3 linked regions of the Homo sapiens genome follow. Each later gene encodes a partner of the first gene's protein in a complex. Each region holds a gene or a part of one and is shown on either strand. Other genes may lie near its edges. A codon is read from its position in the direction of its gene.

Region 1 (10,175 bases):
ACAAAAAGGCTGGGTGAGGTGGCTCACGCCTGTAATCCCAGCACTTTGGGAGGCCAAGGTGGGTGGTTCATGAGGTCAGGAGATGGAGACCATCCTGGCTAACACGGTGAAACCATGTCTGTACTAAAAAAAAAAATACAAAAAAATTAGCCAGGCATGGTGGGGGGTGCCTGTAGTCCCAGTTACTCGGGACCCTGAGGCAGAAGAATGGAGTGAACCTGGGGGGTCGTGCGGAGCTTGCAGTGAGCAGAGATCACACCACTGCACTCCAGCCTGGGCGACAGAGCAAGGCACGGTCTCAAAAAAAAAAAAAAAAAAAAAAATTAGCCTGGCATCCATAGTAGCACATGCCTGTAATCCCAGCTACTCCGGAGGCTGAGGCAGGAGAATCGCTTGAAACCAGGAGACGGAGGGCGCAGTGAGCTGAGATCGTGCCATTGCACTCCAGCCTCAGCAACAAGAGTGAAACTCTGTCTCAAAAAAAAAAATTTTTTTTGTAGAGATAGGGTCTCCTCGCTGTGTTGCCAAGCTAGGTTGAGTTGTGTAACTCCTGGCCTCAAGCAATCCTCTGTCTCAGCCTCCCAAAGTACCGTGATTGTAAGGGTGAGCCACTGTGCCCAGCCCCAGCTAACTAACTGGGTTACCTGACCACCTTCTAGGTCTTTGGGGGTAAAGAAGTTGATTTGCATAAAAGTACTTGGGGAAGTACTTGGTGCACAGCAAGTATAACCTTAAAGGGGTTGCTGTGAGGACTTCACAGGGACAGACCAGGAAGTACTGTTTACAAGAAGTACCATTTTTGAGTCAGACTCACCTGGGGTGCCTACCCTGTCCCTTTCCTCTTGGGTGATCTTATGCACTTGAGGTACCCCAGGGATCCTCCTTTTTCCTCCAAGTCTCACCTGCCAGAGGTCCAGGCCCAGCACGCCAAAGTTATCATAGGCATAGATACTGGGATCGGGAGAATACTCGGGGTTGTCAATTTCTGGGTGGATCCAAGTGCCCTTGTAATCTGGGTTGTCGATCTGCCGGGGCTTCCACTCACCCTGCAGAAGGGAGAAGGAAACCGAAGGGTGAGTAAGGTTGGTGCACTCCCCACTGTGAGCCCCAGCCCTGCTCAGAGCCCCAAACTCACCTTGTACTCAGGGTTCTGAATCACTGGGGGTTCCCACTCTCCGTCCATCTCTTCATCCCAGTCCTCGGGCTTCTTAGCATCAGGGTCAGGGATATGCTCGGGCTTGTCCCAGTCCTGGGGGGTAGATGAAGAGATCAGAGTTGGCCCAGATGTCTTCCACACCCTCCAATGTGGAGAGCAGAGCCCCTGCCCAAACACCAACCTCAGGCTTGGAGTCTGTGGGATCATCGATCTTGGCCCGCTCATCCCAGTCTTCCGGTTTTGAAGCATCAGGATCCTTTATCTTCTTGGGTGGCAGGAAGTCCCAATCGTCTTCCAAGGAGCCGGACTCCACCTGGCTGTTGTCAATCTTCACCTCATAGGTGTTGTCTGGCCGCACAATCAGTGTGTACAGGTGTGTAAACTCATCATCCTGAAGAAGGAAGAAGGTGAGCGGGGGCCACCCCCCAATGAGGCTGACCTCTGAATCTCCCCATGACAGCCATTTGCCACCACCCCCAGGCACACCTTGCAACGGATGTCCTTGTTGATCAGCACGTTCTTGCCCTTGTAGTTGAAGATGACATGAACCTTCTTGGTGCCAGGGCCACAGATGTCGGGACCTAGGTGTGAAGCAGATCCAGTTAAGAGTCAGAGACTACCCATCATCTCGAGGCTCTCACCCCTCTTTATAAAAGGAAGACCTGGTTCTTCAACTCGGGTCTGTCAAGGCTGAGAAGAGAAACTCAGACCCTGATTCTGTCCTGAATGGGCTGTGGGTGGAGCCTTAAGTTTAAAGGAGAAAAAAAAAAAATCAGTGCTCTAGAACTCAAAATCCTCATTAGTAAGATTGGGAAATAACTATATACAAACACGCAAATTAAATTAACAGCCTAGATCTGCGATCATAATGCAATAAATTGTTGCTGGGACTTATTCTTTTAGCTCCCCTTCCAAAAAAAATCATTATTAAGAAAGTCAATGGGGTCTGGGTCTCCCTCTAACTAATGGGACAGAGATCAGCACCAGGAAGCAGGCCCTCACCAAACATGATGTTGTATTCTGAGTCTCCGTGCATGTCTGTCTGGTCCAAACTATTAGGAAACAGCTTCACATAGCCGCCCCCACAGTCGATGTTCTGCTCATGTTTCACCGTGAACTGCACCACCAGCGTCTGGCCTTTGTTGCTGAAAGGCTCGAAACTGGCCGACAGAGCATAAAAGCGTGCATCCTGGCTTGTCTGCAAACCTGAGACGGGACGGTAGTGAGGTCACCGTTGGGCCTTGACTCGCGAGGACCCTCGACTTAGAGAATAGAGAAGACTCCCCCACTTCCTCCACCTGTCCTCCTCCAAGGGGACTGTCCCGGCTGTGTGTGTACAGACAAGGACTTCTGCCAGGAAGTCCTCCCGGATCTGAGCACCCACTCCTAGGCTCTTACCTTTATCTTTCTCCTCGTCACCGTAGAACTTGCCGGAACTGAGAACGAATTTGCCAAAATCTGACTTGTGTTTGGATTCGATCCAGCGGGAAGTCCACCCGTCTAAGTGGGGGATTAGAGGGGTAGGTCAGAGCGGCTGTGCTAATCCCCCCCCACACCAAACATCTGCCGAGAGCCACAAGCTGCTGGGGACAGGAAAGGAGATCCCCGACACTCCCCATTCCAACCTCTAGTTTGACACGTCGGGTGCCTTCAGAGATCCTCGGGCTAACCCTAACTCCCGCCGCGGGAGGCCGCTACGCCCTCCGCGCTCCCCAGGGACGCAGAAGAGAAATCGCCCGCGGCTCTAGTCCCGGGAGGCCACCGTGTTGGACCTCTAAACGGTAATTACGGGCGACAACGCAGATCCAGGATCGGGGGCCGGCCGCGTCGTCGGGGCGGCCTCGAGGCGGGACCAGGCGTTACCTCCGTCCAGAAACTGCTCCTTGAAGTAGACGGCAGGCTCGGCGACGGCCAGGCCGAGGAGGCCGAGCAGCAGCGGCACGGATAGCAGCATGGCGGGCCGAGGGGGCGGCAACGCGCGGGCCCTTTAAAACGACCCTCCGGCAGCGGCTCTGCAGTACGGACGGACGCCGCCGCCCGCCTTGCACTTTTATACCCACCCGCCTCTCAAACCAACCTGACCCAGCCCTTGGGCCCGCCCCTGCCACTTTGTCATTGGTCTATGCCCATGGCCGTCTTTTTCCATTGGACCTTCGTCGGTTCACTATGTTAGGCTGCGCCTCGGAACGCTGGGTTCCCAGATGGCCGATTTCTATTGGCCTCACCACCGACCAATGATGGTCGACCACGCGTGGGGGGGACGCCCACTGGTGGGGTGGGGGCCGCGAGCACCTCAGGCCAGGTCATGTGACCAGACCTGAACCCAACCCCGCCCTCGTCCGCGCGCGTCGTTGCCCATCTGGGCGTTTAAAGAAACCGCGGGAGCGCAGCTGTCTCCACGCGGGACCGGGACCCTGCCCTCAGCTTCTCTCCCTCCCATTCCCTCTAGGTGGAGGGGCTGGGCAAGGCTTTCTTAGCCAGCTCTTATCTTGCATTTGAGAACCAGCACCCCACTGCTGCTCCCCCACCCCTGCCTGGGATGGGAGAGAGCTCACGGATTGGGGCCCTTGGGGCTTCGCTGCACCCCGGTGCTACAGTCACGCGGGCCGGTGGGAAGAATGCCAGCCCTCTCCTCCTTCTGCCCCTAGAGCCCTGGCAGCCTATCGGACTGCTGCTGTGTGACCGGGGCAAGTCACTTAAGCTCTCTGAAGTGACAGACGTTCCTGAGCAGACAGAGGGGGCGACCCTGGCCAGATGCTACCCAGCAGAAATGCTTTTAACGTTTTTAAAGCTGTCCTGGGACAAGAGGGGAGGAAGGCTTAACGATGTGACTGTGACTTCTGGAGTGGGGATAGGGTTATTACCCAGATTGCAGCCGCCCCTTTACCCTCCTCTCAACCGGTAAATGAAGGGGGTCGCTGTCTGTGGTCTCCCACAAACGGCCTGGCTTTTGCAATTAAACGGCTATAGGCAGGCGAGAGGGCAGGGGGTTCCGTTTGGGGAGGGAAAAAAGACACAGATGGTAGGGACGATAAGATGCTAGGGAGATGGGCAGGACCCACCCCCCGACCCCAGTCTAGAGTCTTCTTCAGAAGCCAGAGGCACGTGACTGGCACCAGTACCCTGCCCCCACGCTGTAGAAAGGAGGAAGGAGAGCTGGGGGTTTTCCAAACTCTGGGCAAATAAGCCCTGGACCTGGGAGCGCGGGAGTGGACTATGGAAGGAGGGAATGAGGGGGATCCAGGAAAGAGGGTGGGGAGGGGGTGCTTCCTGGCTAATGGTTGTGACTCAGAAAAGAGAGGAAGGAAAAAATGAAAAGGAAAATAAAGTGGAGTGGGGGGAATGACTTGGCAAGGGTCTCTGGTTAAAAAAAAAAAAAAGAAATGGTGGCCGGGCGCAGTGGCTCACGCCTGTAAACCCAGCACTTGGGGAGGCCGAGGCGGGCAGATCATTTTAGGTCAGTTCGAGACCAGCCTGGCCAACAAGGTGAAAACCCATCTCCACTAAAAATAAAAATAAATAAATAAATAAAAATTAGCCAGGCGTGGTGGCGGGTGCCTCTAATCCCAGTACTCGGGAGGCTGAGGTGGGAGAATCGCTTGAACCTGGGAGCCAGAGATTGCAGTGAGCCAAGATCACGCCACTCCACTCCAGCCCACCAGCCCAGGTGACAGAGCAAGACTCCATCTCGAAAAAAAGACGGGGGAGAATGAACTGGGAAGTTGGGGTTCTACCACTTCCTCTAGGTAGTATTCAGTATTGCCTAGTCTGGTCCCCCCCATGAGGATCCCGGGGACCATCCCAGGCCTCTTGCTGACCCTTCCTCCTGTTCCTGTGTCAGGCACCTGTGGGCTTGGCGCTTCCTACTTGAGGTTAGACACTGCCTGTTTTGTTCACTTCGCATCCTCCAGTGTCACCTGCAGCACCTGGCACAGAACAGGCTTAAAAAGTACTTGCTGCATGATAGAAGAGAGGAAGGAAGGACTCTTGTGGAAATTAACTAAAAACACACGGGGCACAGTGGCTCACGCCTGTAATCCCAACACTTTGGCAGGCCAAGATGGGAGGAATGCTTAAGGCCAGGAGTTCAAGACCAGCCTGGGCAACATAGCAGGAGGCCATTTTTACAAAAACATTTTTTTTAATTGCCAGGCGTGGTGGCGCCTGCCTGTGTTCCCAGCTACTCAGAAGGCTGAGGCAGGAGGATCACTTGAGACCAGGAGGTTGACGCTGCCGTGAGCTGTGTTGTTGCCACTGCACACTCTAGCCTGGGTTACAGAGCAAGACCCTGTCTCAAAAATAAATAAAAATAAGCCGGACATGGTAGTTCACACTTATAATCCTAGCACCTTGGGAACCTGAGGCAGGCAGATTGTTTGAGCCCGGCAGTTCAAAACCAGCCTGGGCAACATGGTGGAACCTCATTCTTACAAAATATATATATGTACACATATGTAATATATTATATATGACATATAATGCATAAATATATGAATAGTATGTATATTATATATAGCATATAATATATAATATACATAACACAAATTAGCCTGGCCTGCTGGTACACACCTGTAGTCCCAACTACTCGGGAGGCTGAGGTGAGAGGATTGCTTGAGCCCAGGAGGTGGAGGCTGCAGTCAGCCAAGATCATGCCACTGCACTCCAGCCTGGGCAATAGAGTGAGACCCACTCCCTAAATAAATAAATAAATAATCAACATAAAATGGGAGGAGAGAAGGGACTTTGAGAAATGTATCCTTAATACAGAACCTCATATAGGGTCAGGATTTGGGGATATGAGTAATCCCATTTTACAGACTCAAATAATAATTGTGATGTAAAAGGAATAAATGTGTTCTGCTTATAAGAGTGTTCGAACATGGGCCACACTCAATTTAGTAAGCAGTGTGAATATGTGTGGGCATTTAATTCTCACAGTAACCTGGGCTCCAATCACCTCCATGTGAGCAAGAAACTGAGGCACAGAAAGACTACACCTTCTGGTTGAATGACATAAATAACAGATCTAGGATTCTTTTTTTTTTTTTTTTTTTTTTTTGAGACAGAGCCTTGCTCTGTCACCGAGGCTGGAGTGCAGTGGTGCGATCTCTGCTCACTGCAAGCTCCACCTACCAGGCTCAAGTGATTCTCCTGCCTCAGCTTCCCGTGTAGCTGGGATTACAGGCACCCCCACTGCACCCAGCTAATTTTTGTGTTTTTAGAGGAGATGGGGTTTCGCCATCTTGGCCAAGCTGGTCTTGAACTCCTGACCTCAGGTGATTCACCCGCCTCAGCCTCCCAAAGTGCTGGGATTACTGAGCCTGGCCAGCAGATCTAGGATTCTAATCTACCTGTGCTGACGTAAGTCACCACTGCCCACATGTGATTACTGACCATTTGAAATGTGGTTGGTCCGAACTGAGATGTGTTGTAAGTGTAAAATACGCATCAGATTTTGAAGATTTAGTATGAAAAAAAGTGCAATTTTTTTTTTTTTGAGACGGAGTTTCGCCTTGTCACCCAGGCTGGAGTGCAATGACACGATCTCGGCTCACCACAACCTCTGCCTCCCAGGTTCAAGCGACTCTCCTGCCTCAGCCTCCCAAGTAGCTGAGATTACAGGCATGCGCCACCACGCCCTGCTAATTTTGTATTTTTAGTAGAGACGGGGTTTCTCCATGTTGGTCAGGCTGGTCTCAAACTCCCGACCTCAGGTGATCCACCCGCCTCGGCCTCCCAAAGTGCTGGGATTACAGAGGTGAGCCACTGTGCCCGGCCGAGTGCAAAATATTTTATTAGTCATCTTTTTTTTTGTAAGAGTCAGGGTCTGGCTGGCTGGGCGAGGTGGGTCATGCCTCTAATGCCAGCATTTTGGGAGACCGATGCAGGAGGATAACCTGAGCCTAGGAGTTTGAGACCAGCCTGGGCAACATGGCCAAAACCCATACTTAAAAAAAAAAAAAAAGCTGGGTGTGGTGGCGCGCACCTGCAGTTCCAGCTACTCAGGAGCCTAAGGTTGGAGGATCCTTAGAGCCTGGGAAGTCAAGGCTGCAGTAAGCCATAATTGCACCACTGCACTCCAGCATGGGTGACAGAGCAAGACCCTGTCTCAAAAAAGAAAGATGTTTTGCACTGTGTTTCTATAGGACAGTGCTAATCTAGGCCATGCAGTATTTGCACTGACGTTACTCTCAGCGCACAGGGGTGGGAGGATCTGGAAGGTTTATAATTTATGACTTCATTTCCACCAACTCTCTGTAGAACCTTGGGCAAGTCATACCACCCTCTGAGCCTCAGTTTTCTCACATGTGTAATGCGGTTATATCAGTATCTACATCATAAAGTTTTGGGGATAAATGAAATACTACACGTGAAGTACTCAGTTCTGGGCTAAGTACTACCACATACGAGGTAGTCCACACAGGTTAGGTGCCACCTTGACTTACTAGGTGAATTCCTTTTCCCTCTATAAAAAGGGACGGTACCTACCCAGCCTTCCTTTGAAATTTTAAAAGTAGCTGACATCGCCAAAATGACCATCTCTGGAGCCCACCACCCACCGCCTCTCCTAGGGCAAGAGAGAATACCAGAAGGGCAGAGGGTTCTGTAACCCAGAGACGGGGAAGTCCAAGGTCACACAGCCCGCTCGAAGTGAGGCTAGATAAAACTCAAAACAGGGCGGTGCTTCTGACCTTGAGATAATCAATTTTACCCCTCTGGTCAACCAGACGCCATTGATGGAGCCAGGGTGGAGGTGGGAACTGAGTCCCATGCACCTTTTGCGGCTCCGTCGCCACACTCAAGATGACGACACATTGAGCCCTGTTCTACAGTTAGACACATTCAAGATGGCGGTACACACTCCGGTTCCGGTTCCGGTGGCTCAGCTCCCCCCGCCCACCCGGGCCCGGACACGCTGAGCACACTGGAAGGAGTCATGGCGGATGGTCAGGTGGCGGAACTGCTGCTCCGGCGGCTGGAGGCGTCTGATGGCGGCCTGGACAGCGCCGAGTTGGCGGCTGAGCTGGGCATGGAGCACCAGGCGGTGGTGGGCGCCGTGAAGAGCCTTCAGGCGCTGGGCGAGGTGAGCCGGGCCCGTGATGCCGGACCGCCTTGCCCTTGCACCTACAGTCCCCTTGCCACGGGCGCTCTACGTCCAAGCCAAATTCCCTCAGGCCTAGTTTGGGGTAGCTGTATATGTGTCCACTCCGGGATGTGCGGGCGGGAAGTGGGACGAGTGAGGGCCCAGACGCACGGATGTTCCTCATGCAATAAACGTTTATTGAGGCACGGTCAGCGTGGGTAGAGGGTACGATGATGGACGAGGAAGTCGCGGTTGCTGCCCTCACGCAGGTTGCGACGTAATAGGAAGGTGCTTCAAGAACCAGAGTGATGGGGGAAAACAGGGGACCCAGCTGTGACAGCTGACCCAGCCTTGGGGGTCAGGGAGAGCGGCCTGGTGCAGGTGACGGCTGAGTCTGTTCTCTGTTGAGGAAAGTGATAGCACTTTAGAGATCAGTGGCCGGGATCTTGGGGGATGGCAGGCGGCAAGGGAGACCAGCATAGCTGTAATTGCAAAGCCTCTTAGGTCTTTACCTCATGAGGGAACTGGGAAGCGATAGCAGGAGCTAGAGCCGGTCAGATGAGTGTGCTATCCACATCACCTTTGGGAAGAATTGGCATGGACAGGACTGGAGGTGAAGGGATGAAAGAAGAAGCTGGCACTTCCCCAAGCTGGAGGGCATGATGTCTGGCTATGGGAAGGAAGCTTGGGGGAGGTGGGGAAGGCGTGGGATTCAGGACAAGGCAGGGGGCGCACAGATGAAGTCCAGCCTTCTGACTTGGGCAAGTGGACAGTGACAGAGTCACAGGCGTAGGATGCTGAGGGGCCCGTGGGCCACCCAGAAGGCTAGATCCATGGGGCCAGGATCTGGGCTGTTTATCCGTAGAGCTCATGTTCTGTGCCCCACTTTGGTCTCAGCTTGTTTGTCCAATCCATTCCATAATCCTGGCTGATGGCCATGTTATTCCCATTTTGCAGATGTGACAACTGATGGTCAGTAACATAATCAGTGTGAATAGAAGAGGCCGATGAGCCCAGATTTGAAATTAGGCACTCAGGCTGCAGAGCCCATAGTCCTCAATGCAGAGGAGAGATGGCAGCTGTGTTGTGTGGGGTGACAGTGCCTTGACCAATATGATCTGACATTTGTATACGTCACAGAGGGTTAAATAATATAAGGAGGTGAGGTTCAATCTAATGACAGTAATAGCCATAAAAATAATTATAGTAATTAGAATTTATGCCGGGTGCAGTGGTCACACCTGTAATCCCAGCACTTTGGGAGACCAAGGCGGGTGGATCACGAGGTCAGGAGTTCAAGACCAGCCTGGCCAAGATGATGAAACCCTGTCTCTACTAAAAATACAAAAAAAAATTAGCCAGGCGTGTTGGTGGGCACCCGTAATCCCAGCTACTTGGGAGGCTGAGGCAGAGAATTGTTTGAATCGGGAGGTGGAGGTTGCAGTGAGCCGAGATCGCACTCCAGCCTGGGCGACAGAGCGAGACTCCGTCTCAAAAAAAAAAAAAAAAAAAATTTATGCAGTGTTTGTCACGTGGTAGGCACTATATATTCTTTCTGAGTATTAATTTAGCTACTCCTTAAAATCATCTGAGGTAGAACCCATCACACCTTTCTCTTATGGATGAGAAGAGTCACTGAGAGGTTAAGCAACTTTCCTGAGGTCACACAGTAAGTGAAGGGCAGAGTTGGGATTAGAATGAAGTGGGAGCCAGGCCCTGTGCACTCTACTTACCCTTGTTGTCCTTGTCTTCATGACTCTGGACCTGGAACCTCAGTTTTTGTTTGTAATGTGGACCTCCAGGGCCCGTCTCTGACATTCTGGGCACTGACATGTGAACATTTAAACATGGAGACAGGCTGGGTATGGTGGCTCATGCCCATTATGCCAGCACTTTGGGAGGCTGAGGAAGGAGAATCACTTGAGGCCAGGAGTT
Region 2 (10,162 bases), on another chromosome or scaffold:
CACCCGGCCTCCAGCGGTTTTCTTTATGGGTTGACTGCCATCTTCTCTGACGTTCTCGCTCCAACACATCAGTTTTCTGGGCATACGGAGTGGTGCTTCAGCTCATCCACAGGTTACTTCCAAAATTGCTCTCCTTTGGGCAGCACTGACCCCATAGCCTTTTGTCCTCCCTTCCCTTCCAATCTGGTTTCTTTCCCCACCCCGCTTCTGGCAGATGCTTGGAGCATTCCCTACATGCCCAGCATATGCAACCCGAGATAGCAAGGCTGGACACTGGAGCTCTTTCGGACCTCATCATGGCCCAGGGAGAAAAGAAGGGCAGATCTTGATTAGGGGGAGAGAGCCCTGTGGGTTTAGAAGGGAGAACCTGGTTCTGGTGTGGCTTGGGGCCTAGGTATGCACTGAAGAGGGTTTGTACCTTTGAAGAAAAGTGTGGAAGAGGGAATTGCCAGGCTTTGTATGGGGAGATGTGCGTATTAGGAAATAGCCCCTAGAGAATGCTTGGAGAAGCAGAGCTGGATGAGGTGGTGACGTCCTTGTCCCTTATTCACCTCTCACTTAACGGCCCTGACTTCACTCTGGCCTCCTCCAGACCCTGCCAGTCAGCCTGGCAGGGGCTTTCCAGTGTTCTTTGCCTCACCCTGGGTACCAGGATAAGGAGACTGTTCAGAGGGCTGAGGTTCTCTGAACTTGTGACTTGGCTAGAAGGGACAGAAGTGGACAGGTGGCTGGTTAAAATAGGCCTGGTGGCTTCTAGCCAGAGGAACTTAGCTGACCTGACAACCTCTGGATTCCCTCATTCTATATTCCCATTAAGGACCCAGGGATCTCCTCCCGACTCCTACTCCATGTGCACTAGGGAATCTGAGGCACTTAGTTCCCAATGATGGTAGTTGCTACAAATAATTCTTGGGGTGAAGGTTGCGTTGTGGGGGTCGTTTCTTTGTTCAGTGTAGCAGGATAATATCACAGTTAAGAGGGCAGCTTCGGCCGGGGGTGGTGGCTCTTGCCTGTAATCCCAGCACTTTGGGAAGCTGAGGCAGGTGGATCATGAGGTCAGGAGCTCAAGACCAGCCTGGCCAATATGGTGAAACCCCGTCTCTACTAAAAATACAAAAATTAGCTGGGCGTGGTTCGCGCGCCTATAGTCCCAGCTGCTTAGGAGGCTGAGGCAGGAGAATTGCTTGAACCTGGGAGGTGGAGGTTGCAGTGAGCTGAGATCGCGCCACTGCACTCCAGCCTGGGCAATGGAGTGAGACTCCCTTCTCAAAAAAAAAAAAAAGAAAAAAAAAGAGGGCACGTTCTTGGGTTGAACTGCATTGGTACAATCCTGGCTCTATCACTTCATTGATTCTACTTTTTTTTTTTTTTTTTTTTTTTTTTTTGCGACGGAGTCTTGCTCTGTCACCAGGCTGGAGTACAGTGGTGCGATCTCGGCTCACTGCAACCTCTGCCTCCTGGGTTCAAGCCACTCTGCTGCCTCAGCCTCCCGAGTAGCTGGGGCTATGGGCACGCACCACCACGCCCAGCTAATTTTTATATTTTTAGTAGAGACGGGGTTTCACCATGTTGGCCAGGATGGTCTCCGTCTCTTGACCTTGTGATCCGCCTGCCTTGGCCTCCCAAAGTGCTGGGATTACAGGCATGAGCCACTGCGCCTGGCTGATTCTACTAATATCAACTGACCACTTTTGCTACTGTGTTCTAGGCACTGGGAATACAGCCATGATCTAGACAAAATCATATTCTCATGGAGTTTTCATTTTAATTAGGGAGAGAAACAACTTAAGATAATTCCTAGCTGTGTGGCCTCAGTTTCTTTAACCTTAAAACAGGTATAACAGTAATATTATGGTTGTTTTGAGGATTAAATGAAAAAGGCCAGCGTAGTGGCTCATTCCTGTAATCCCAGCACTTTGGGAGGCAAAGGCAGGAGGATCACAAGGTCAGGAGTTTGAGACCAGCCAGGCCAATATAGTTAAACCCCGCCTCTACTAGAAATACAAAAATGAGCCGAGCGTGGTGGTGCACGCCTGTAGTCCCAGCTATTAGGGAGGCTGAGGCAGGAGAATTGCTTGAACCTGGGAGGCGGAGGTTGCAGTGAGCCGAGATCATGCCGCTGCACTCCAGCCTGGGCAACAGAGCGAGACTCCATCTCAAAAAAAAAAAAAAAAGAAGAAGAAATAAGCCTAAATTACATACATAGTACCTGTGGTAAATGTTCATTATGTGCTCCCTGTTACTGTTACTGGGGAAGGCTTCCTTATCAAGGGTTTCAATCCTCTTTTGTGCTATTTGTAGGTAATTCAGTACCAAACTGTTCGATATGATATCCTCCCCTTATCTCCTGTGTCCCGGAATCGGCTAGGTAAGTATGTGGTGGGAAGCCTCCTTTAGGGTGAAGTAGGGGCTAGCTCTGGGTCAGAGGTCGGTCAATATTATTCCTCCCCACTCTGGTTCAGCCCAGGTGAAGAGGAAGATCCTGGTGCTGGATCTGGATGAGACACTTATTCACTCCCACCATGATGGGGTCCTGAGGCCCACAGTCCGGCCTGGTACGCCTCCTGACTTCATCCTCAAGGTGTGTGGTGGTGGGGAGTGATGAAATGGTTCCATCTGTTCCTCTGCCCAAACCTGGACTCCCTTTCCCAGTCCCAGAGCATCTGTCTCCATCCGCTGGCACCAGTGTCAGCCTGGAGGAGGGAAGCAGATGGGTGGGGCGTTTTCTAGGCCTGGGTTGTGGTGGTCATGACATCCCCCAGCCCATCTTGTTCCTCTGTAGGTGGTAATAGACAAACATCCTGTCCGGTTTTTTGTACATAAGAGGCCCCATGTGGATTTCTTCCTGGAAGTGGTGAGTTTTGGAGAGCTAAAGGGAGCTCTGTAATGAAGGAATGGTTTTAGGGCTCTGGGAATTGGGAGGATTTGGAGGAAGGGGTGAGGAGAAACGGGTTAGAGCAGTTTTCTAGAGGGGAGGCTGTGTAATGGTAGGGGAGTGGCTTTCAGTACTTGGGGTTCATTTGTTGTGCTGATGTAATTCTTTTCCGCTGGCATCTTTCTCTTTTGTTCTTGCATTTCTGAATCATAAGAGTGTAGGATGCCTAACACTGAGTTTGGAGGTTTGGGCTGGGGGTTCAGAATTTCGTGTCCTCAGAGACATTTGATGTTGATGGAAGGCCTGAAGGACTATGCCATTGCCTTTCTGAAAGATAACTGTATGTCTAAAGGAATCATCACCTTGTATGGCATCGCCCTCTCCCCCAATCTATTTCAGGTGAGCCAGTGGTACGAGCTGGTGGTGTTTACAGCAAGCATGGAGATCTATGGCTCTGCTGTGGCAGATAAACTGGACAATAGCAGAAGCATTCTTAAGAGGAGATATTACAGACAGGTAAGCTAGAATCCCAGTCTAAGAGTGTGGCTTGGGAGGGAGGCCACCAGGGAGGGATCTGGGTTTGAGGAGAGTATCCTGGAGAGAGGCCTGCTACATGATCCCCTGCCTTCCAGCACTGCACTTTGGAGTTGGGCAGCTACATCAAGGACCTCTCTGTGGTCCACAGTGACCTCTCCAGCATTGTGATCCTGGATAACTCCCCAGGGGCTTACAGGAGCCATCCAGGTACGGGGGAAGGTGGTGAGTCTGGCAGGACCAGAACATGGTTCTGAGAAGGTATTTTTGCAGGAGACCTGGGCTTTGGTCCTTGAGAGCTGGGATTCCCTAGATTATCCCTAGTTTGCTGTAAGTCGAAATGCAAGTTATTTTTGTGTTTCAAATGAGATACCATATATGTCCATTTCATAAGTCGGATTTCTTATATCATTTTTTTCATTTTTAAAATTTATTTTTGGCTGGGCACGGTGGATTATGCTTGTAATCCCAGCACTTTGGGAGGCCGAGGCAGGCGGATCACGAGGTCAGAAGTTCGAGACCAGCCTAACAAACATGGTGAAACCCCATCTCTACTAAAAATAGAAAAAACTAGCCAGGCGTGGTGGCGCACGCCTGTAATCCCAGCAACTCGGGAGGCTGAGGCAGGAGAATCGCTTGAACCCGGGAGGCGGAGGTTGCAGTGAGCCGAGATTGCACCATTGCACTCCAGCCTGGGTGACAGAGCGAGACGCCGTCTCAAAAAAAATAAATAATAAATAAATAAAAATAAAATTTATTTTTATTTATTTTTTGAGATAGGGTCTCACTCTGTTCCCAGGCTGGAGTGCAGTGTCATGATCATAGCTCACTGCAGCCTCGATCTCCCAGGCTCAAGTGATCCTTCTGCCTCAGCCTCTCAGTAGTTGGGACTACAGGCGTGCACCACCATGCCCAGCTAATTTTTTTATTTTTTATTTTTTTTTGAGACAGAGTCTCGCACTGTCACCCAGGCTGGAATGCAGTGGCGTGATCTCGGCTTACTGCAACCTCCGACTTCCAGGTTCAAGCAATTCTCCTGCCTCAGCCTCCCAAGTAGCTGGGATCACAGGCACCTGCCACCACGCGCAGCTAATTTTTTGTATTTTTAGTAGCGACGGAGTTTCACCACGTTGGCCAGGCTGGTCTTGAATTCCTGACCTCGTGATTCGTCCGCTTTGGCCTCCCAAAGTGCTGGGATTACAGGCGTAAGCCACTGCCCTTGGCCAATTTTTTGATTTTTAGTAGAGAAGGGATCTCATTATGTTGCCCAGGCTGGACTCAAACTCCTGAGCTCAAGTGATCCTCCCACCTCGGCCTCTCAAAGTGTTGGGATAACAGGTGTGAGCCACTGCGCCTGGCCAAGTGTGTTTCAAGTGAGGCACAATGGCAGTAAGCTTGACTAGAAGCATCAATAGGTATGAGATCTGGTGATTAAAACTTAGTTTCGGAGCATAAACCAGGAAAGTTTTACTTAGGTTGTTGACTTCCGGTAGTGGGAGGCATATATTTTTAACAATAATTCCTCCTTCCCTCCAAGAAGAGAAAAACACCGTCTCTCTTGAATTCTGTTTCTTCTCATCTGCATTTTCACCCACCCTAGACAATGCCATCCCCATCAAATCCTGGTTCAGTGACCCCAGCGACACAGCCCTTCTCAACCTGCTCCCAATGCTGGATGCCCTCAGGTAAGGGAAGTGGGCTCTGGACACTTGGATATCTCAAGAAAGGAGGAGGTGGGGGATCCTCAGAGGGAATAAAAAAGGTTTGTCCTGTTTTAACTCTGTTCCCTTAAGAATTTAACATTTGGACCCAGGTCGTCTTACTTCAAAGCTCATCACTTTAGCTAGTAGGCTGTGGGCAAATTGAACCTATCTAATCATGAATATGGTGATAATTTAGGTCCCACATCTCCAGTGATGCTGCCTTACAAGAGTGTTGTGAGGGTATGAACTATAAGGTACTCTACCAATGCAAGTTATTGTCACCCCAGGTTCACCGCTGATGTTCGTTCCGTGCTGAGCCGAAACCTTCACCAACATCGGCTCTGGTGACAGCTGCTCCCCCTCCACCTGAGTTGGGGTGGGGGGGAAAGGGAGGGCGAGCCCTTGGGATGCCGTCTGATGCCCTGTCCAATGTGAGGACTGCCTGGGCAGGGTCTGCCCCTCCCACCCCTCTCTGCCCTGGGAGCCCTACACTCCACTTGGAGTCTGGATGGACACATGGGCCAGGGGCTCTGAAGCAGCCTCACTCTTAACTTCGTGTTCACACTCCATGGAAACCCCAGACTGGGACACAGGCGGAAGCCTAGGAGAGCCGAATCAGTGTTTGTGAAGAGGCAGGACTGGCCAGAGTGACAGACATACGGTGATCCAGGAGGCTCAAAGAGAAGCCAAGTCAGCTTTGTTGTGATTTGATTTTTTTTAAAAAACTCTTGTACAAAACTGATCTAATTCTTCACTCCTGCTCCAAGGGCTGGGCTGTGGGTGGGATACTGGGATTTTGGGCCACTGGATTTTCCCTAAATTTGTCCCCCCTTTACTCTCCCTCTATTTTTCTCTCCTTAGACTCCCTCAGACCTGTAACCAGCTTTGTGTCTTTTTTCCTTTTCTCTCTTTTAAACCATGCATTATAACTTTGAAACCAAAGCGGCCTTAGGTCCTTCTCTGGGGTTTTGGGAAGTGAAGAGAGGGGACTTTGTTCACATGCACCCTGTCCCACAGGCAGAGGGGGAAGAGACTGCTGTTGGACTCAAGGGGCAGGGGGAAAGGTGGCGTTGAGTATAGGGATAGAATAATGCGGACACCAGATGCCTGGGATACAATAATGCTGACACCAGATGCTTTGGCGGGAAGGGCCGAGTGACAGGATGGGCGCGCTGGTGGGGAGTGGAAGGACACCTTCGGAGAAGCAGGCTATGGAAGCACGAAAGGAGAAACCGGCTATGGAAGCACGAAAGGAGAAACCTGGACGGCCAAAGGGCGTAGAGCTGGAGAAACCGGGCTTCGTCCGGGGCACTGACGTGGACAGGTTAAGCGGGCGCTGCCCCCAGGTGGCTGGCGCCCCGACCTCCGCTGTCCGGGAAGGCGTCGGTCCCCCTCCCAGCTGTCGCCCAGCCGGCCCCGCCTCCCCGGCGCCCTCCCAAGCCGGCCCTACTTCGCGCACCCGCCACGTGACGCTCCGCCCTCTTTGAGATCACATGATTTAACTCAAGTCCCGCAGTGTTCCTCCGCGCTGGCGTAGTCCCTACCTTTCCAACCTCCTCTCCAGTCCCTATTGGTCTACTCATTTTGGCACTTAAGCGTTCTGTAGATCTCTCCAAACATCTGTTTTCTTTTTGACTTCTTATTTCTGGAGATCATCTCCGCCACTTGGGTACTACTTTGTTTTGGTGTCAACGGCCGCCTTCAGCGTAGCAACACGGTTCGTGAATAGCTAACCTTGTAATTGTCCCTGCTGTTCCTCTACGTTGTTAACGAAAGGAACTTGGAGAACCAAGTCTCGTATGATGATTACCATCTTTTACTCCTCTTCAGCCCCAGCTTCCTTGAGGGGACGGTTGGGGAATAGGTTTAGAGTAATTTTCGATGAGCAAAAGCCAACCGTCTTTGCTACGTCGCCTGCGTAGCCCACAAATTGATTCCAAAGCGATTACGCTAATGGCGTGAGGGGGCCGGTCAGTTGGTGGTGCTACGCTAGCAGCGTTAGCGCCGCTGAGGTAGTGGCGTATCTTAGCGGGGGGGGCAGTCCCCGATAGTCGGGGGCGGGGTTGGTGAATAGGGAAGTGGCGCAAATTCGTGGATCGCTCCGCTGAATCCGCCCGCGCGTCGCCGCCGTCGTCGCCGCCCCCCGTCCCGGCCCCCCTGGGTTCCCTCAGCCCAGCCCTGTCCAGCCCGGTTCCCGGGAGGATGAAGTTCGTGTACAAAGAAGAGCATCCGTTCGAGAAGCGCCGCTCTGAGGGCGAGAAGATCCGAAAGAAATACCCGGACCGGGTGCCGGTGAGGACAGTAGCCAGGGCCGAGGGCGCGGGACGCTTACGCTGACGCCACAGCCTGGCCTTGGATCGGGACAGGCAGCGCAGGGATCAGGCTGCTGGCTGTGGTGGGGTTGGCAGCGAGCCTGAAACTGCTGTCCTTGGGACCCAGGATGAAAGGAGTGGGGTAGTGGTGGATGTGGGGTTGAGAGGGATGTGGACAGGAGAGAGAAACCTTAGCATTTGAGGCCTTAGAGAGTTTGACAGCCTGAGCTTCAAATGGTCATCCCCCCAGCTAGCTAAGGTTGCGAGATTGAATCACTAGTCGACCCAAACAAGTCACCTCCGTCTGATTAAGATAGTTGTTTATGGTGACGCCCTATTGGGGGATGGATCCTGGATATTTAAATGAGCTCCAGTCAGTGAGGTCAGGATCTCTGGGACTCAGTGCTGCACCGCGTGTACAAAGACAAAGAGATGAATCTGGGGTAGATTTAGGTGCTAGGAATATTGTTTCTTGAGTTCTTGACAGGTGCAGCTTCGGGGCTGCATTCCTTCTGTCTCCTAATTTTCATCTCTTTATCAGGTGATAGTAGAAAAGGCTCCCAAAGCTCGGATAGGAGACCTGGACAAAAAGAAATACCTGGTGCCTTCTGATCTCACAGGTGGGAACCTGATCCAAGACTCAGGCTTGCTTCCTGTGGGTGGGAGTGCAGTCTCTGCGGGAGGAGGCTCCACCTAGCAGCTGTTCTTTTGAGGGCATTTTTGACCTCTGTGACTTTCTTGCATCTTGTATCTTTTGCAGTTGGTCAGTTCTACTTCTTGATCCGGAAGCGAATTCATCTCCGAGCTGAGGATGCCTTGTTTTTCTTTGTCAACAATGTCATTCCACCCACCAGTGCCACAATGGGTCAGCTGTACCAGGTATGGTGACTGGGAAGTGGTGGAGGCTTTGGAGAGGAATCTTGGAAGAGCGTGAGGGGAAGAAAGTGTTGTTACATCAGTAGTTTTGGACTAGCTTCCTGGCTTGCCTTAAAGTTTCATAATAGCCGTGGGTTGGGGGTTTGGACAGAACAGTAGGAGTAGAGAGAAGGAAAGAGAACAGTGAGCTAGAGAAACTATCTGTTCGGGACTCTTCCCAGTCCCCCTCCCCATTCCAAAGCAGCAGAAAACAGTTTGAGGCCTTTTTGCCCAGGACTGCAGAGATTATACTGCTCGTGTGGTAGGCCTTGGAGTCAGTGAAGGAGTCAGGCAATGGTTTGTGGTTCTAGAAGAACGTGTCTGGGTCGTGGTTGGTTTAAGTTACTGGAGCCCAGTTGCTGAACAGTTTTCTGCTTTCATCCCAGGAACACCATGAAGAAGACTTCTTTCTCTACATTGCCTACAGTGACGAAAGTGTCTACGGTCTGTGAAGCTGCTGCCCCTGAGCTGGAGGGGGGTCTCATTCTACAAAGAGAGAGGTGGCCCCCCTTTCTTGACCTCCTCCTCCTTCAAGCTCAAACACCACCTCCCTTATTCAGGACCGGCACTTCTTAATGTTTGTGGCTTTCTCTCCAGCCTCTCTTAGGAGGGGTAATGGTGGAGTTGGCATCTTGTAACTCTCCTTTCTCCTTTCTTCCCCTTTCTCTGCCCGCCTTTCCCATCCTGCTGTAGACTTCTTGATTGTCAGTCTGTGTCACATCCAGTGATTGTTTTGGTTTCTGTTCCCTTTCTGACTGCCCAAGGGGCTCAGAACCCCAGCAATCCCTTCCTTTCACTACCTTCTTTTTTGGGGGTAGTTGGAAGGGACTGAAATTGTGGGGGGAAGGTAGGAGGCACATCAATAAAGAGGAAACCACCAAGCTGAACTGAATTTTGCCTTGTGTTGCTCCCCTCGTCCCGCTGATTTTAAGTCTTTCCAAGGTGTCAGTGGGTTTCAGTGGTGGGGAAAGAAGAGTACTGGGTACAAGCTGGAGGGATAGAAGTATATTTTGGTTTATTCTGTTCATGTTGGGCTTTTCCCTGTCTGCAAAAAGAGGGTGCTTTTGTTGTGATGGAATGGAATACTGAGGATTATTTCTTGAAACTTTAGTTTTATAACACGCATGTGAAACTAAATGTTAAAAATGCTCATGTAAAAAAAAATTTTTTTTTACTGTGGGTTCCTGTGGAGAAAGTTCCGAAGTACCTGCTTTAGGTGAACATCCACATTTGCTAGAACATTCTAACTAAGATATTTTCATGTGTGCAAGCTAGTAAAACGGCTGTTCTCAGTTGCATGTCACTTGGCTAGACTTTTGCCGGTGTGTGGGATCCGGCAGAGTGGAATCAGGGAGGGAGAAGACTGGGAGCGGGAGCCATTATCGCCAGGAATACTTCAACTCCCAGCAATCATTTCTCCGGCAGGCCGGAAGTGGGGCGGTCCTCCTGGGGAGAAAGAAGCTGCAGAACGAGGCAGTATGGTGGCCGAGAGTTCTAATCCCTTCTTCCTCTTCTTTCTTGGTCCCGCCCAGCCTACATCTCCCAGGGGCCTGCGCGCGCACTTCCGCTCTCCCCTCCGGCTCCTGGTCTCCCCGCCGCTCCCCGGGGGAGGGGAGCGGCTTGGTGCGCCTGCGCCAGCCTGTGGCTTTCTGGGAATCAAAGTTCCGGAGGTTCATGCGGTCCCTTTTCCGCTGTTCCCGGACGGACTACAAAACCCTTGGTGCACTGCGCCTCGGCGCCGGCGGGGGGAGGAGGGAGAGAAGAGGAGGGAGGGAGGAGAGAGGAGGTGGAGGAGGAGGAGGAGGGAGCAGGCGGCCGGCGGC
Region 3 (9,137 bases), on another chromosome or scaffold:
TTGATTAAAAACTGGGAAATGGCCTTGAACAGACATTTCTCCAAAGATAATATATAAATGGCCAACAAGCATATGAAAAGATGCTCAACATCACTAGTCAGCAGAGAAATACAAATCAAAACTACCACAGTGAGGTATCTCACACCCATTAAGATGGCCATGAAAAAATAAAAAGTATTGTCAAGGATGTAGAGAAACTGGAACCCTTGTGTACTACTGGCAAGACTGTAAAATGGTGCAACTGCTATAGAAAAAAGTATAGGGGTTCTTCAAAAAACAAACAAACAAATAAAAAAACACTATTCCAGTGGCCTAGATTCTTTCAAAATAATAAAAATTAAAAACAGAATTATCACTTGATCCAGCAATCCCACTTTGGGGTATATATCCAAAACAACTGATATTGTTCCAGAGGCTGGAATACCTATTTGCACACCTAGTCACATTAGCACTATTCACAATAGCCAAGAGGTAGCTGCAACCCAAAAGTCCATTAGTGGATGCAGTCCATAAACAATATGATATATATATATACACAATGGAGTATTAGCCTTAAAAAGGAAATAAATCCGGTCACACAGTACAACATGGATGAGTCTTGAGGACATTACACTAAGTGAAATAAGTCTGTCACAAAAAACAGACATGGTATGATTCCACTTACATGATGTTATCTAAAGTAGTCAAATTGGTAGAAACAGAAATAATGGTGGTTACCAGGGGCTAGTAGGAGGGGGAAAAGGGGAGCTGTTGTCCAACAGGCATAGAGTTTCAGATACGCAAGATGAAAAACTCACAGATCTGTTTTCCAACAGTGCGAATGTACTTAATGTCACAGAACACTTAAAAATGGCTAAGTTAGTAAATGTTGTGGGTTTTTTTTGTTTTTTTTTTTTCTGAGACAGAGTCTTGCCTTGTTGCCCAGGCTGGAGTGCAGTGGTGCAATCTCAGCTCACTGCAACCTCCACCTCCTGGGCTCAAGGGATTCTCCTGCCTCAGCCTCCCAAGTAGCTGGGACTACAGGCACATGCCACCACACCTGGTTAATTTCTGTATTTTTAGTGGAGATGGGGTTTGACCATATTGGCCAGGCTGGTCTCGAACTCCTGACCTCGTGATCCGCCCACCTCAGCCTCCCAAAGTGCTGGGATTACAGGTGTGAGCCACTGCGCCCAGCCAATTTTGTGTTTTTAACCACAATTTTAAAATGTAGGCCAGGCTCAGTGGCTCACATCTGTAATCCGAAGTTCAAAACCAGCCTGGGCAAAACAGTGACACCCTGTCTCTACAAAAACAAACAAACAAAAAAAAACACCGGGTACGGTGGCTTACACCTATAATCCTAGTACTTTGGGAGGCTGAGGTGGGCAGATCACCTGAGGTCAGGAGTTCTAGATCGGCCTGGCCAACATGGTGAAACCCCATCTCTACTAAAAATACAAAAACCCTCTGGGCGCAGTGGTGGGCGCCTGTAATCACAGCTACTCGGGAGGCTGAGGCAGGAGAACTGCTTGAGCCCGGGGGACAGGGTGTGCAGTGAGCACTCCAGTATGGTTGACAGAGCAAGACTCCATGGCGGGGTTGGGGGGGACCGGACCCACATCACAAAACTGTGACTAAGATAAGCCTATTTTGGGAAGATAGGCATTTCTATAGCATATGAAAAGGATGGGCAAGATAAAGACCCAATATTTAACAATCATCTCTGAGTGGTGGCACTATGGGTGAGTTTCTTCATTTTTTGACTTACCTGTTTTTTTTTTATAGTGAATCTGTAACTTCTGTATTAAGAAAAATACACGGAAGTCTTTAGAAAAAAATCATTTTGGCTAAAAACTTCACTGTCTGCCTATTACATCATGGGTATTTCACCATGTTACTGAAGCTGAACTAATACCATGTGAGACAGATGCTGTTTCTTTCATTTTGCAGGTGCGAATAAACTGAGGAGCAGAACAGTTGAGTGACTTGCCAAGGTTGTGTAACCAGTAAATGACAGAGCAAGCATTACAATCCAGGCCTAGTTCTAACTTCAATTCAGGGTCCTTTCCCATTTCATTACACCTCAAAGGGAAGATTGCATTATTACTCGTGATATTGTTTAAAAAAAAAAAAAACATAACCTTGGGCAAGTAAGTCACTTAATTTCTAGGGCCCTCAGTTTCCTCATCCAAAAAGTGAAGGGGTTCTAGAAAAGATATTCCATCTCTAACAGCCCCTCTTGCTACCAGATCTTAAGTCTAGATAGCACAATCTCTAAAGAAAACCCTGGGTTTTCTTTAAAGGGGTCAGAATGAATGGTTGAATAGAAGTTGAGGCCTGTGATCTGGGCCAAAGGCCATTCTTAATGGAAACAGGTGGTGGACTGTCATGAGGAAAGAACCACTAGGGGAACCATAACCTTCCTGGTTAAAGCAACAACTGAAAGCTCCAGCTTTGCTTTACCAACAGTGCTGCTTCAATCTTGGCTAACTCATGATCAGAAACCACATACTAGGTAAGTAAAGCCTGAAGAATATAAAAATTAACATGAGAAGAAAATCACTGTAGCAACAGTTTGTGCATGCTATTGTAATTCCATGATTTTCTAAGTGGACTCTTTAATGCTAAAACAGAAAGGGTGATTCTATATTGAGACGCCTTCATTCTCACCAAGGATTAATAGAGAGGCTGAAACTTCCAAAGCGCTTGGAGAGAAGCTACACTTGTGGGCAAGGGGAAAGCATCCAATTAAAGCCTTCCCAATTCATGGGTAATCAAAGACAGTGAAAAGAACTTTAAAAGGTGAAGTTCCGGGCGGGGGCGGTGGCTCACGCCTGTAATCCCCAGCACTCTGGGAGGTCGAGGCGGGTGGATCACCCGAGGTCAGGAGTTCGAGACCATCCAGCCTGATCAACATGGTGAAACCCCGTCTATACTAAAAATACGAAAATTAGCCAGGCCTGGTGGCACATGCCTGTAATCCCAGCTACTTGGGAGGCTGAGGCAGGAGAATTGCTTGAACCTGGGGAGGTTGCAGTGAGCCGAGATAGCGCCACTGCACTCCAGCCTAAGCAACAAGAGCGAAACTCCGTCTTAAAAAAAAAAAAAAAAAAGATGAAGTTCTTGTAAAAGATTCATTATTTGTAACCTCTTACACTGCACACATTATAAAGCATTTCATGCTCTTTAAAACTGTTATACAGCCTTTTTACTCGAAGGTAATAAACCTACAGCTCTCTCCTGGCGAGAAAGAGATTCCATTTTGCGGAAACAGATTCCAGTCAAAATCTTACCACATTCCCCTCAACTATGGGTATGAGCCTAAACCAATGAGAAGCTCCTTGGTGCATGTGTAATGGTCTCCAAGAATTACAACAACATCCTACCCGGAGGACCACAACCACGACACCACTGGCTTTAAAATCAAAGCCTGGTCCCTAGCGAAGAAAGCGCTTTAATGTGCTCCTCCCGCTCCCGGGTGCGAGATTCCTGCCCAGCTACTAGGCCACGACTGGGTGAGCACCTGATGTGGGGGGAGGGCGAGCCAAGGCCGTAGCGGATCTGGGGCGAGGAACGAGGGGCTCTCGAGGCTCGGGAAAAGCGCTGCCTTCTAGGGGCGCGGACCCTTCGGCACCCACAGGAGTGGACACTAAGAACACGTGAGACGACAGGGGCAGAGATGGGGTGTCCCGGGCAGGTAGCCTGGGTCCAGCACGGCAGCCAGAAAGACGAGGAAAACGGAGCTGGCCCTGGGCAGGGCACGAGGCCTCTGAGCCTAGAGAGTGAAGGTAAAGGGCGCGGGGAGAGGAAGCAAAGCCACGAGGAGGGCGGGTCTCCCTGGGCGCGGGGGCACGCGCTGGGCAAACGCGACAGGACCCGGGGAGCCGGGGACCCCGACATGCAGGAGGAGATCGCAGCCCTACCCCAGGACGCAGGGAACGAGAAAAGGCCGCGCCCGGAGGGCCCTGTGACCCGCGGCCTCCCTAACCGGACCCGCCCCGCGGCGCCTCCCTCTTGCCTTTTTTCCCCTCCCTCCCTCCCGCGGCCCGTTATCCTGCGGCCGCAGCACTCACCAGCGGCTGCACCTGAGCCTGCCGCTGCCTCAGTTGCTGCCTGCGCCTCCGCAGCCGCCGCCGCCGCCTCGCTGCTGAGGCCGAATCCCGGGGGAGCCTCCGCGTCCCGCCGCCGCTGCCGCTGCCGCCAGAGCAGAACACCCCAAAATGGCGGCACTTCCGGCACCTACCACCGGCGGGGAGGGCAGAGGAGGAGGGGGAGCGCGGCGAGGGGGAACGTATCACCGCGGCGCCGCCCGCAGCGCCGATGCGAGCGGAGCGCGGCGTAGGGGCGGGCCGAGCGCCGGGCGCTGCAGCGCCCCCTCGGGCTGGGAAGTGGAGGAGCAGCCGCACCTAAGCCCCTGGGGCCGCGGGCGGAGCCCTCAACCTAGGGAGCTGCAGGGGCGCATCTCTTTGTCTCCGATCCCTACTGGAGGGAAGAGCCAGGCCTGGGAATCTGAAGTTCTCGACTCCGCCCATCGCACCCACAGGAGCTCTAGATGACCCTGGTGGGCAAGGAGGCACCCCTACTGGGCACTGAATAGGAGCATAATAAGATATTTGTTGAATAAATGGATGAGTGAGTGACTGGTGCTTGGCCAGCGTTGGGCACATGGCACGCCCCTTTTTGCCCCAGCAGACAAGCAACAGCATCCAGGCCTTCCTTCTTTGCTGGGATGTGAATATGTGTGTTCCAAGTGCAGGGAGTGCTTTTTAGCAAGATAATCAGTGTGAACGCACAACCTGGCAACGATCGCTGCGACATAAGGAAGTTCACAAAGATTCTATTAAGAGACCGATTGCCCAGCCATAACCTGCTTTTACCGAAAAAAAAATATATATATATATTTTTTTTTCTTAACTCAGGTTAGGTCTCTAAAGACTTCCTCCTGAGTTACTCTGGAATCCCTGGGTCTAGATGGAACGCAAGCAGTACAATTTGTTGTTGTTGTTGTTGTTGTTTAAGCCAACATTTATTCCTAGGTTCCAGACCTTGTGAGGCAGTTAAATGCAGATTAAGAAAGAAAACTTTGTTCTGGAAGCTTTTGGCCCCATCAACATGCAAATAACTCATGGGATGGTTTCTCTCTAACATCATCTGGCTTCCCAGAGAATATAATTTTTATACCCACAAATACTGATTATATCCTACCTTACCACAAACAACAAGTGGGCTTCCAAGCAGAAGCCTCAAGGGTTTTCCTCTTTCGCCTTTGGGGGGGAAAAAAACTAACCAGAGTTTTTCTGGTACCATATAGTCCTTAAATTGTACATGATCATATTCCCTAATTGTACTGGGTAGTTTTATATACATTCATAATGCTGATATATGATCTTGTTCTTGTTAATAGTTTTATGTGTAGTTGACTGAAAACATCCTATATTTATAGACCATTATAGCTTACAGAATGTTGTCACAAATATTACCATATATTTGCTGCTATAGGTTGTAGAAATGTTTCAAGCAGAGAGTCTGTCTCCTTTTGTGCTCCATAGAATCATGTGGATATCCACATGGCTCACTTCCTCACCTCCTTCAGACTTTGACTTAAGTGTCACCTTCTCAGTCCAGTCTTCCCTAAGCACTCTATTTTACACTGCTTGCATGCATGGCATGTGCACACACACACACACCCATGCTTTCAATCCCACTTTCATTTTTATCCAAAACATTTATCATTATCTAACACAGTTTTTTTTTTTTTTTGAGACGGAGTCTAGCTCTTGTCACCCAGGCTGGAGTGCAGTGGCGCGATCTCGGCTCACTGCAACCTCCACCTCCCAGGTTCAAGCAATTCTCCTGCCTCAGCCTCCCGAGTAGCTGGGATTACAGGCGCGTGCCACGATGCCTGACTAATTTTTGTATTTTTAGTGGAGACGGGGTTTCAACCCCTGTTGGTCAGGCTGGTCTCAAACTCCTGACTGCAAGTGTTCTGCCCGCCTCTGCCTCTCAAAGTGCTGGGATTACAGGCGTGAGCCACTGCACCCGGCCTCACAGTATATTTTGTATTTATATATTTTACTTGTTTTATTGACAGTAGCCCAGAAGGTAAACCAAAGGTAAACTTCATGAGGATAGAGGTTTTGTCTGTTTTATTTCACTGCTCTATCCTCAGGGCCTTGATAATGCCTAATCCATAGTACATGCTCAATAAATATTGTTGACTTACTGAATAGGTATATCTAGGTGCCAGATATGGAAAACAAAATGTTGCGCCTTTAGAAGCTTCTTGGAACCTGCCCATGAGCTAAATAAGGAAAGGCACCATGCCCGTCTTATTATATCTCCAGTGCTTTTCACAATATCTGACTCAATAGATATTTCTTGAAGAGCAAACAGAAACTCTTCCATGCCCATCTTGTTATTCTCCTAATATCTCCATTGCTTTTCACTGTATCTAACTCGATAAACTTCTTGAAGAGCAACCAGAAGCTTTTTCCTATTCTATCTGTGCCTTGACTTAGGGCTCCCATTTGCAAGGGAGGAACTTGTAAGGTATTAATATCACTCTTGCATTTAGTTACCAAGGAAGGCCACAGACTGTTAGCCCAAGGTTGGGGGGAAGAACAATTACATGAAGAACACAAATAGATCTTGTAACTTCAAAGGGTTTCAGCAACATAGACAAAATGCTAAACAGTCCAAATACAAAAAAAGCCTAGTGTGAGATTTAAGAGTATGTAAAGCTTCCTGTTTCATGTTTTGCCTTACAAATAGATTAAGATTTATTTTTTTTAAAAAATAGCCAATGTCGGCCAGGCGCGGTAGCTCATGCCTGTAATCCTAGCACTTTGGGAGGCCGAGGCAGATGGATCACCTGAGGTCAGGAGTTCAAGACCAACCTGGTGAAACCCTGTTTCTACTAAAAAATACAAACGTTAGCCAGGCATGATGGCGGGTGCCTGTAATCCCAGCTACTCGGGAGGCTGAGATGGCAGAATAGCTTGAACTTGGGAGACGGTGGTTGCAGTGAGTCGAGATCGAACCACTGCACTCCAGCCTGGGCGACACAGCAAGACTCTGTCTCAAAAAAAAAAAAAAAAAAAAGCCAGTGTTAGTAAGAGTGCAGAGAAATAGCCTTCTCCAAGTGGTGATGGGAGTAAAGTTCAGATAATCTGCCTAGAGGAATCTAAACTTTTACATACCTTTCTAGGAATTTATCCTAAGGGAATATTCATGGATAATGGCAGAGATTGTAACATTTTTTATTTTTTTAATTTTACTTTTCTAGACACAGGGTCTTGCTCTGTCACCCAGCCTGGAGTGTAGTAGTGCTATCATAGTTCACAGCAACCTTGAACTCCTGGGTTCATGAGATCCTTCCACCAGAACCTTGTGAGTAGCTGAGATCACAGGTGTGTGCCACCATGTCCAACTAATTTTTTTTCTTTTGTAGAGACAGGGGTCTCACTATGTTGCCCAGGCTGATCTCAAACTCCTGAGCTCAAGCAACCCTCCCCACTCGGCCTTCCGAAGTTTTGGGATTACAGGTGCGAGCCATGACACCTGACCATAACATTGTTTAAACAGCATAAAATTTGATACAAAATGAGATTGATAAATTATGGTTCATTCATAGCCATATAATAATAGATAAATATAGAGGAAATGATGATAGCCAGGCATGATGGCATACTCCCATAATCCCAGCTACCCTGGAGGCCAAGGCAGGAGGACTGTTTGAGGCCAGGAATTCAAAACCAGCCCAGGCAACATAACAAGACACCATCTCCATATAAATAAAAAATTTAAAAATGTTAGCCTGGCATGGTGGCATGTACATCTGCAGTTCCAACTACTTAAGAAGCTGAGGTAGGAGGATCCCTTCAGCCCAGGAGTTCCAGGTTGCAGTGAGCTATGATCACGACACTGCACTCCAGCCTAGGCATCAGAGTAAGACCCTGTCTCTATTTGGTTATTTATTTATTTATTTATTATTTATTTTGAGACGGAGTCTTGCTCTGTTGCCCATGCTGGAGTACAGTGGCACCATCTTGGCTCACTGCAATGTCTGCCTCTCAGATTCAAGCGATTCTGCTGCCTCAGCCTCCTGAGTAGCTGGGATTACAGGTGCACACCACCACGCCCAGCTAATTTTTGTATTTTTAGTAGAGTCGGGGTTTCCCCATGTTGGTCAGGTTGGCCTTGAACTCCTTACCTCAAGTGATCCGCCCGCCTCAGCCTCGCAAAGTGCCGGGAGCCACCACGCCCGGCCTATTTACTTTTCTTTCTTGGTTTTGTTTGTTTTGTTTTGTTTTTTTTTTGAGGCAGAGTCTGGCTCTGTGGCCCAGGCTGGAGTCCAGTGGCACAATCTCAGCTCACTGCAACCTCCCCCTCCCGGGTTCAAGCGATTCTCCTGCCTCAGCCTCCCGGGTAGCTGGGACTACAGGCACATGCCACCACATCCGGCTAATTTTTTGTATTTTTAGTAGAGACGGGTTTCACCGTGTTAGCCAGGGTACTCTCGATCTCCTGACCTCATGATCCACCCGCCTTGGCCTCCCAAAGTGCTTCAATTACAGGGGTGAGCCATCACGCCCGGCCTATTTTTCTTTTTTTTTTGAGACGGAGTCTCGCTCCGTTGCCCAGGCTGGAGTGCAGTGACTTTTCACAGGCATGATTCCACTACAGATCAGCATGGGAGTTTTGACCTGTTTCTTTTCCAGCCTGAGCCGGTTCACCACTCCTTAGGCAACCTGGTGGTCCCCCACTCTCTGGAGGTCACGATGTTGATGCAGAACTTAGTGCAGACACCTGATTGACATACTGCACTATAGCCCAGAACTTCTGGACTCAAGTGATCCCCCTGCCTCAGCCTCCAGAGTAGTTGGGACTTACAGGCACATGCCACCTCGCCCTGCCCTTGTCTCTAAAAGAAAAAAAGAAAACTCTTTTTTTTTGAGATGGAGTTTTGCTCTTGTTGCCCAGGCTGGAGTGCAATGATGCAATATCGGCTCACTACAACCTCCGCCTCCTGGGTTCAAGAGATTCTCCTGCCTCATCCTCCCGAGTAACTGGAATTACCTGTACCTGCCAGCATGCCCAACTAATTTTTTGTATTTTTAGTAGAGACAGGGTTTCACCATGTTGGCCAGACTGGT

Evidence for each region.
Region 2: the proteins of CALR (region 1) and GABARAP are in contact, whole or in part, in a crystal structure (PDB 3DOW), measured with the Homo sapiens proteins. Residues at the interface, in NP_004334.1 of Homo sapiens: Asp199 (codon at 1,445), Trp200 (codon at 1,442), Asp201 (codon at 1,439), Phe202 (codon at 1,436), Leu203 (codon at 1,433), Pro204 (codon at 1,430), Pro205 (codon at 1,427); in NP_009209.1 of Homo sapiens: Glu17 (codon at 7,363), Ile21 (codon at 7,375), Tyr25 (codon at 7,387), Arg28 (codon at 7,396), Pro30 (codon at 7,402), Val31 (codon at 7,966), Ile32 (codon at 7,969), Lys48 (codon at 8,017), Tyr49 (codon at 8,020), Leu50 (codon at 8,023), Val51 (codon at 8,026), Pro52 (codon at 8,029), Leu55 (codon at 8,038), Phe60 (codon at 8,193), Leu63 (codon at 8,202), Ile64 (codon at 8,205), Arg67 (codon at 8,214), Phe104 (codon at 8,747).
Region 3: CALR (region 1) and CELF1 share a complex: the UniProt entries of both Homo sapiens proteins name them as parts of the EIF2 complex.

What each region holds. Positions count from the first base shown.
Region 1 is NC_000019.10:12,931,615-12,941,789, reverse strand, and holds the start of CALR (calreticulin precursor), read right to left. Parts: upstream 3,182-10,175; 5' UTR 3,111-3,181; coding exon 3,020-3,110; intron 2,657-3,019; coding exon 2,555-2,656; intron 2,363-2,554; coding exon 2,159-2,362; intron 1,738-2,158; coding exon 1,643-1,737; intron 1,548-1,642; coding exon 1,338-1,547; intron 1,307-1,337; exon of another isoform or gene 1,250-1,306; coding exon 1,136-1,249; intron 1,047-1,135; coding exon 903-1,046; intron 1-902. Other genes in the region: FARSA (phenylalanine--tRNA ligase alpha subunit), read left to right, coding at 8,094-8,240. UniProt on the Homo sapiens protein: Calcium-binding chaperone that promotes folding, oligomeric assembly and quality control in the endoplasmic reticulum (ER) via the calreticulin/calnexin cycle.
Region 2 is NC_000017.11:7,239,483-7,249,644, reverse strand, and holds GABARAP (gamma-aminobutyric acid receptor-associated protein), read left to right. Parts: upstream 1-7,195; 5' UTR 7,196-7,314; coding exon 7,315-7,404; intron 7,405-7,965; coding exon 7,966-8,044; intron 8,045-8,184; coding exon 8,185-8,303; intron 8,304-8,725; coding exon 8,726-8,791; 3' UTR 8,792-9,637; downstream 9,638-10,162. Other genes in the region: CTDNEP1 (CTD nuclear envelope phosphatase 1), read left to right, coding at 2,302-2,368, 2,463-2,581, 2,783-2,854, 3,275-3,391, 3,508-3,619, 5,010-5,094, 5,400-5,460; PHF23 (PHD finger protein 23), read left to right, coding at 10,014-10,059. UniProt on the Homo sapiens protein: Ubiquitin-like modifier that plays a role in intracellular transport of GABA(A) receptors and its interaction with the cytoskeleton.
Region 3 is NC_000011.10:47,548,937-47,558,073, forward strand, and holds the start of CELF1 (CUGBP Elav-like family member 1), read right to left. Parts: upstream 4,197-9,137; 5' UTR 4,056-4,196; intron 1-4,055. UniProt on the Homo sapiens protein: RNA-binding protein implicated in the regulation of several post-transcriptional events. Involved in pre-mRNA alternative splicing, mRNA translation and stability.